Regions from separate parts of the Homo sapiens genome. Here all the other regions are linked to region 3. Evidence: fine-mapped expression QTL. A gene starts in region 3. Each other region holds a variant in brackets. All regions are shown on one strand. Distances are from middle to middle. Region 1 overlaps LOC102724234 (a long non-coding RNA gene). Region 2 has its middle 45 kb from the start of SSR1. Region 3 holds the start of SSR1 (signal sequence receptor subunit 1).

Region 1 (2,756 bases), 130 kb before region 3:
GGATTTCTAGTCATGTTTTCAGAGTGCTGTAGCCTGAACCACAAATTACCATGTAGTTCAGAGGAAAGATAAGTAACACACCACTCAACTGTAGTTCAGGGGAAAGATAGGTAACGAATGCACACACCTCATTTTCTTTCCTGAATTACCAAAACAAAACCACCCACAAGAATAGAGCGCTTAAAAGAAAACTGCGGAAAAACGTACAAGACAAACGTCAGCGGTAGGGCAAATAACTAACCTGAGAAAAGCCGAATACTAGATAGAGAAAAGCTAACAGCCAAAAAGCCTCAGCCTTTCATAAAGAGGCAGCACCTGGTAACCCTGGGAACTAGTGTGTCCAGAACTAGCGGGTTCTCGGTCTTACTAATTTCAAGAACGAAGTTGCAAACTTAAAGTGTTTTAGCTGTACAGTGAGTGTTCCAGCTGTTAAACACAGCGTTGCCCAGAGTTCGCTGTCTCACTAGTTCGGGAGTAAAGCTGCAGACCTTCACAGTTCATGTTATCATACTTAAAGTACCATATCTGAAGTTCTCTGTTCTTTTTCAAGGGCTCACAACCCACATTAGATTCAGAAAAATCTACAGACTTTAGCAAAAAACCGCTGAAACTCCCAACAACAATCTGAACCCAAAAAACAAAAAAAAAAAAGACAAATATCTCACATCATATGAAACAAACTAACCAAATTACCGGGGCTAGCTCGGGCAGCCTGCTTTTATTCTCTTATCTGGCCCCACCCACATCCTGCTGATTGGTCCATTTTACAGAGAGCCGATTGGTCTGTTTTACAGAGAGCTGATTGGTCCGTTTTTAACAGGGTGCTGATTGGTGCGTTTACAATCCCTGAGCTAGACACAAAAGTTCTCCACGTCCCCACTAGATTAACTAGATGCAGAGTGTTAATTGGTGTATTTACAAACCCTGAGCTAGACACAGAGTGCTGATTGGTGCATTTACAAACTTTGAGCTAGATACAGAGTGCCGATTGGTGCATTCACAATCCCTTAGATAGACATAAAGGTTCTGCAAGTCCCCACCAGATCAGCTAGACACAGAACGCCGATTGGTGCATTTACAAACCTTGAGCTAGACGCAGGGTGCTGATTGGTGCATTTACAAACCTTCATCTACATACAGAGTGCCGATTGGTGTATTCACAATCCCTTAGCTAGATAAAAAGGTTCTCCAAGTCCCCACCAGATTAGCTAGATACAGAGTGCCGATTGGTGCAGCCACAAACCCTGAGCTAGACAGAGGGTGTTGATTGGTGTGTTTACAAACCTTGAGCTAGATACAGAGTGCTGATTGGTGTATTTACAACCCCTTAGCTAGACATAAAGATTGTTCAAGTCCCCACCAGACTGACTGAGCCCAGCTGGCTTCACCCGGTGGTATTCCCCAGCGGGGCCGCAGGTAGAGCTGTCAGTCCCGCCCGTGGACCCGCACTGTTTAGTCCTTTGGGCGGTCAATGGGACTCTGTGCTGTGAAGTAGGGGGCGGCGCTCGTCCGGGAGGCTCAGGAGACT[C/T]GGGCTGTGCAGGAGCCCAGGGCGGGGTTGGGACGGGGGGCTCAGGCATGGTGGGCTGCAGGTCCCGAGCCCTGCCCCATGGGGAAGCAGCTAAGGCCTGGCAAGAAATCGAGGACAGCCGTTGTTGGCCCAAGTGCTAAGTTCCTCACTGCCTGGGCCGGCGGGGCCGGCCGAGCCCAAGCCCACCCAGAACTCGCTCTGGCCCGCAAGCGCCGCGCGCATCCCCGGTTACTGCCCGTGCCTGTCCCTCCACACCTCCCCGCAAGCCAAGGGAGCCGGCTCCGGCCTCGGCCATCCCTGGAAGGGATCCCACAGTGCAGCGGTAGGCTGAAGGACTCCTCAAGCACGGCCAGAGTGGGCGTCGAGGCCGAGGAGGTGCCAAGAGCGAAGGGGGGCTGCCAGCAGGCTGGCACCTCTCACTAGCGGGGAAGGAAGTGTGACTGGGTTTCTGAGGAGGAGCTGTTAAAGATGCTTTTAAATTCCAGGATCCCTCCCCGACTCCTGGACGGGCCCTTTCCCACTGCAGCACAAGCCTGGGGACAGATGTATTTTCAGGAGAGGGGAAAGGAGAAGGTCTCTGCACTGGGGACCAGGGGCACAGCTGCGGGGGAGGACCCGAGAGTCAGTGGGGAGGGTGGTGTGAATGTTTACACCCTAAAGAATGCAGCAGCATACCACCAAAGTCTCTAATATCAAGGAGACGCAAGGAAGGGGGAAAAGCAACTTGGGGAAATGGGACACTGCAGAGAAAAGATAACTTCCAGAACCCCCTCGAGTATTAATAAGGGAAACTGACCTGTCTCTAGCTAGAGACTCAAAACCAAGTCAGGACAGCATGTTTTTAAAGCCAGATGACAGCAATATAGAGAAAAGAGAGTGTATTCATAAAAGAAGAATGCAATGAGGTTTTTTGTTTTGTTTTAGTTTTTTGTTTTGTTTTGAGACGGAGTCTCTCTCTGTCGCCAGGCTGGAGTGCTGTGGCGTGATCTCAGCTCACTGCAACCTCCGCCTCCCAGGTTCAAGTGATTCTCCTGCCTCAGCCTCTGGAGTAGCTGGGATTACAGGCACGCGCCACCACGCCAGGCTAATTTTTTTATTTTTAGTAGAGACGGGGTTTCACCATGTTGGCCAGGGATGGTCTCGATCTCCTGACCTCGTGATCCGCCCACCTCAACCTCCCAAAGTGCTGGGATGACAGGCATGAGCCACCGCGCCCGGCCCACAATGA
Region 2 (2,756 bases), 45 kb after region 3:
GATTGAGTTACAAAGCAGAAACCTCCAAATCTCTCCAGATAGGTCTTTGTGTGCAGTTTTCACTGCTTTACTCGTGAAGCATGGCTAAATGTTGGGGTTTCTTTTTATGCCAGATTCTCACTGAAAGCATGAAACTCTGATCAAATCCCAAGAAAAAAGCATGATATTTATCCTTCCTTTGGGGAATCACAGAATGGACCAGTTTTAGAAACTTGGAACCCCATCCTAGATTTTTCCATGTGTTTCTTCATGGGAGGGTGGATGGGTGTGAGGGGAGAGTCTCTGGGTCTTTGATTGTGGGAACTATTTGGCCTGGACAGAGCAGCAGAGAGTCTTGGGCCCCCCGCCCTGCTGCCTCTGTCCAGCCACACACTTCATGCACCAGTAGGGAAGTGCCTGGCGGGGCGTCTGGAAGCCTCTCAGGAGGTCACTGTCTCCCTTTGCTCTTTCAGACGCAGGAGGAGGGAGACGCACTGATGACATCGGGCCGCTCCTGCAGCTCGGGCGCCTCGCAGTCTCCAGGTGCAAGGCCAGCGCTTCCGCCGTGGCTGCTTCAGGACATCCCCCAGCACAGCCGTTCCTGGAGACCCGGCCATCTTTTCTGCATCGTTTTGCAATTTGTGAAACTTAGGACAGCAGCCGCCTGTTCAACCGGGCCCTCCGCCGGATGGCTCTGGGAAGTCACCGCTGGGCATGGCTGTGTCACTAGGGCTTTGTGGCTGATGAATAACAGCTGTCGTGTGCTGTTTCTGGGTGGAGATGTCCCAGGAAACCAGTCCTACTCTGCCAGCCAGTAGGATGGGGATGCAGGTCCCGCCAGCAAGGACTGGCTGAACCGTGCGACCCATGCAGTAGGGCCCTTGGGTCAGCTGTCCCCACCCACTACACTGATGGTGAATGAGGCCAGAAGACAGGGGGCTCTGCGTGAAGCCCACCAGCCCCTGCCACGTGATGGTTGGAACGCGTACCTTAGAGCTTCCAGTTCCGTCTTAGGACATTTTCAAAGATGAGCGTCCTCAGGAGGGGCGGTGGAGGGGGCATGTCTGGAGGGACCTGAGGCACGGGGAGCGCTCGGTGCCCAGGCCGAGCAGTGCCACACGTGCGCACGAGTTATGCCTGCAAACACGGGTTACGCCTGTGAGACCAGTGGGCTCCTTCCAGCCGGGCTGCCTGAGGCCACTGTCT[G/TG]TGTGTTGGTGCCCATTGTGGGCTCCGGGGCGCTCTTCCCTTGTGCTGACGTGAGTGGAGTTGAATTGCCCTGAATCAGATTAGACTGAAATAAACTGAATTGAAAGGCCTACAAATAAGTATGAATCTCTTGCTGAGTGCCAGGCTCTGGGGAGTCACAGCTGAGTAAGACAGCCGCTGCCTGTCTTCACACTAGCCGGGCCCATAACTAATATTATGGACTTGCAGCAAGAACATATTGGGGGTGGTGGGTGGGAGTGGGGAGGGGGGCGAGAGGCTTCAGGAGGAGGAGATCTTTGAGCTGAGCCTTTGAGAATGGGAGTGGGGATTTTGGAAAAAGGTGAAGGTAAGAAGGACACAGGGGACCTGGGAGGCAACAGGAGCAGAGGTGCGCTGCATCTGAGGCGAACACAGGAGAGGGCGGAGACGCAGTGCTCACTTGCCACCTGACAGAGGCACACACGTGCACACAGAGTCACAGGCAGAGAGAGGCATCGCACACTCAGCCTGTGAGCCACACGCATCAGAACCACCCAGAACACACACACATACCTACTCCAGCAGAATCTCAGGGAGCCGACCCAGGAAGCTGCATTTTAAAACAAGCTCTACATGGGAATTCAGAGATTGACAGTGTGTGTGTTGGGGGCGGGTGGTAAGCCTCTGTCAGCCAGCGGGGGTGCGGGGGCATTCAGTGATTTGCAGGCTGGGCCTGCCAGGATTTGCCCCTGGCACATGAGTAATTGTTGCACTTCACCACACAGCACAGTTGCCTGCAGGACTTGTCCACACACAGACTGCTGGGCTCCACCCCCGAAATTCTGAGTCAGTCGGCCTGGAATTGGGCCCAGAATTGCTTGCTGATCAGTTCCCTGATGGGTGATGCTGGTACAGGGGCCTCTGAGAAAAAGATGGATTGGAGAGAGATGAGGCATCAGCCAGACTGAAGGAAGCCCTCACTGGCTCTCCTGAGACTGAGGTGCCGGGACAGTCGCAATATTTGCAGCACTTTGATTTGACCAGATGTGCCTTTCTCTTCTGTGTGCCCATCCTTGGTTTCAAGCCCGGCCTGTGACAGTAGTATGGTATTCTGGACATATGACAGACACCCAGTGCCCCGATCTGAAGATGGGTGAGCCTGGGTCACGCCGCCCAGTGGTCCCCGCCAGGGTCCCTTGCTCAGGGTGATGCCATCTCCTAAGCGGTGCAGCAGAGACCTGTGGCTCTGAGGCCACTTAGGAGCATTTCTGGGCATCCATGCAGTGCCTTGATTCCAGCACCCAGAAATGCTTCCAGTGTTACCAAGGTCACAGGTGGAAACCCCAGATGTCCCTTGGAAGGCTGTGCTGCCATCACCCGTGGGGCTTGGTCACGTCCTGGATCTAGGGGTGATCATTTATCAGCAGGCTACACAGGATTGGAAGAAGGGCCCCTGGGAATGATAAGTCTGTTCCCAGTAGGAACCCAATGTACCACCAGCAAGGAGCTCAGCACTGTGCTCAAGCCCAAAGGCACAACCAGCTTCCAAATCCCATCTTTGCAGGTCTATGGCTGGGACTACTCATGGTACC
Region 3 (2,746 bases):
ACTCCTAAAGCCACCGAGACTATGAACCCACCAGGAGGAATGGACACCTTAACAGCTGTAACACTCACTGCGATGGTCTAGTAGCTTCACTCCTGAGCCAGTGAGACCATGAACCCACCAGAAGGAAGAAACTCGGAACACATCCGAACATGATGAAGGAACAAACTCTGGACTTTAAGAACTGTAACACTCAGCACGAGGGTCTGCGGTTTCAGTCTTAAAGTCAGTGAGACCAAGAACCCTATTCCAGACACAGCTCTGACATAGAGTGGCAACACTGGTAGCGTGCACAGGAGCAGAGGCAGCAGCAAAGTGAGAGGAGGCCCTCCACTTATGCTGGGCGCCCTAGTAGCAGCAGCAACACAGCAGCGGTGCCACTGGTGGCCTGGCAGAGTGGAATTTGGTTGATTCAGCCCAGCACCATCAGGCTGTGACTTTAGCAGACTGTAGGTAGTGGTGGCAGTGGGTCCAAGCTGCATTTACAGCCCCCAGGACAAGGAGACCTGAAGCGGAAACAATGCAGGAGTAGAACAGCAAATGTCCTAGGTCAGTAGTGTATGGAATCTGGAACCAGATAGCCTTGTTCAAATCTTGCATCTGCCGTTTGCTAGCGTTTTGAAGCTTTGAGTAAATTACTAACCTCTCTGGGTCTGTTTTCTCCTCAGTAAATAATATCCAGCTCATAGAGAGGTTTAGAAAATTAAATGAAAAAGCACAGCTCTAAGGAGGTGATTGACAATAGTAAGCATATGATTTATTTCCTCATCTTTATGACATCTCACTCTGGTCCAGACCAAGATTACTTAATATTCAGATTAATTTCATGAACTGCTATATTACTCCAGCAACTCAAATCCAAAATAGATGAAAAGGAAACTAAAGAAAACTGGACAGCCATTGCTGCACCTATTGTATAGTTACAAATGCTGACTACATACCAAAACACTGTTTAGGTGACTTATAATTCTGGAATGTCACATACGAATTTAAGAATTGCTGGCCAGGCGCAGTGGCTCACACCTGTAATCCCAGCACTTTGAGAGACCCAGGCGGGTGGATCACCTGAGGTCAGGAGTTTGAGATTAGTCTGGCCAACATGGTGAAACCCCCGTCTCCAGTAAAAATACAAAAATTAGCCGGGCGTAGTGGTGCGCGCCTGTAGTCCCAGCTGCTTAGGAGGCTGAGGCGGGAGAATCGCTTGAACCCGGGAGGCGGAGGTTGCGGTGAACAGAGATGGTGCCACTGAACTCTGGCCTGGGCGACAGAGCAAGACTTCGTCTCAAAAATAATAATTTAAGAATTGTCATTACTTAACCATGGGAGAGGGTGTGGGCAGACAGGGGACAAAGATTTTCCACTGTGTATTTTCATGGTTTTTCCTTTGAACAATGTCCTCTCTTCCAACAAAATTTTTTGCTTTTAAGTGCCACATAAAGGCAGCTCATGTTCCTTACATCGCCGTTATCAAGAGGATCGTCATTCAAATAAAGTAACCACTGACAATGCTAATTAATTGGAAGTAAAGAACTGGGCGGAAAGAACGGCTAACCGCAAGCTGCCGGGTCGCAACTGCGGCGGAAGGCGGACTCTCGCGGGAGCCACAAAGAGGCAGCAGCCGGCCACGTGACTTCCCGGTGGCCTGCTCTCCCCACCTCTCCGCGCTGAGCAGCCACGTCGGCGGCGGTCCCTGGTCCAGGGAGGGGCGTGGCAAAGGCCCGTGCGCGGTACGTGTCCCGCCCCTCGCTGCCCGGAGCCCGGATGAAGAGTAACGCCATTACCGCCGGAGCCGCCGAGAGCCTTAGCCGACGGAAACTGGACACTGGACCGGCAGCGCCATGAGACTCCTCCCCCGCTTGCTGCTGCTTCTCTTACTCGTGTTCCCTGCCACTGTCTTGTTCCGAGGCGGCCCCAGAGGTGAGGCTGGGGGAGTGTGCGGAGGGGATGGCCAGGAAGGAGATGCCAGTGATGGCAAGTTTGAAGTTGGAGGCGGTGGCCGCTCCGGGTCCTGGGGTCCGCGTCCACCCCGCTGGCCTCTCTCCGCCCTCTCCCCAAGCCTAGGCTCGTAGCAGCAGGGGTCCCCGCGGGCGCTGGAGACCCCGCTGCGGCCTGCCCCTTGCACGCGGAGCGCGGGGCCGTGCCCGGGCGACCTTGCTTCGTGGCCGGCCGAGGGCTGGGCTTGCTCCTCTTGCCCTGGACCCTCGCCTGCAGGAGCGGCCAGAACTGGAGGGTCCTCGGCTGCAGGAGGAGGCGCTGGACACGGCTGCGCTCCGAGCGCGCCGCAGCCGGGCTGTTTCTTTTGGCCACCTCCGGCTCCGCTCCACCCCCAGCCCCTCGCGCTCAGGGCTGACGTGTCTTTAGCTTCCACGCCGGGAGTCCGTCTTCATTCATTTGCCAAAACCCTTGTTTTCTACACATCTAAGCCATCAGAGTGTCTTGTTCAATGGTCATCTGCCTTGTTCACGCCCTGCTTGACCCGTATGTGTTACTAGGAGGCTTGATTTCAGAAAAACTACCCCATCGTCACCCCCGTTATCCGCCCCTGCTGCCAAGCAGACTGAAGAATCCCTGTGGGATGTCTCCCTTCTGCCTTCTTCCTCTTCTTGTCTTTCCATGGAACAATTTTTTGTTTGTGGAAACATCGTATTGTGCTGAAAAAATGTGGCCTACTTCGAGTGTTTTTAATACATAGATTTATTCTTTCAACAATTAACCCAGCAATTAAGTGTGAAAATAACTTAGCAGAATA

The links. PIP is the estimated chance that this variant, and not a neighbour inherited with it, causes the effect.
Region 1: its variant is the best candidate, but not a certain one, in a credible set for the expression of SSR1 in whole blood (INTERVAL, PIP 0.89).
Region 2: its variant is the best candidate, but not a certain one, in a credible set for the expression of SSR1 in whole blood (INTERVAL, PIP 0.86).

The regions. Positions count from the first base shown.
Region 1 is chr6:7,440,294-7,443,049 of GRCh38, reverse strand. The region is part of intron 2 of LOC102724234 (a long non-coding RNA gene); the gene reads right to left. Among named protein-coding and RNA genes, the nearest start is that of RIOK1, 52 kb to the right of the region's middle. The variant C/T (reference allele first, on the strand shown) is at 1,529.
Region 2 is chr6:7,266,851-7,269,606 of GRCh38, reverse strand. No RefSeq gene overlaps it. Among named protein-coding and RNA genes, the nearest start is that of SSR1, 45 kb to the left of the region's middle. RefSeq lists a silencer at 1,897-2,191 and an enhancer at 1,770-2,271. The variant G/TG (reference allele first, on the strand shown) is at 1,186.
Region 3 is chr6:7,312,210-7,314,955 of GRCh38, reverse strand. It overlaps SSR1 (signal sequence receptor subunit 1), which reads left to right and starts at 1,757. Exons shown (of 8, transcript NM_003144.5): 1 at 1,757-1,914. The coding sequence starts at 1,836. RefSeq lists enhancers at 1,382-1,441, 1,452-1,521, 858-1,724, 1,725-2,593 and silencers at 2,012-2,121, 2,252-2,301.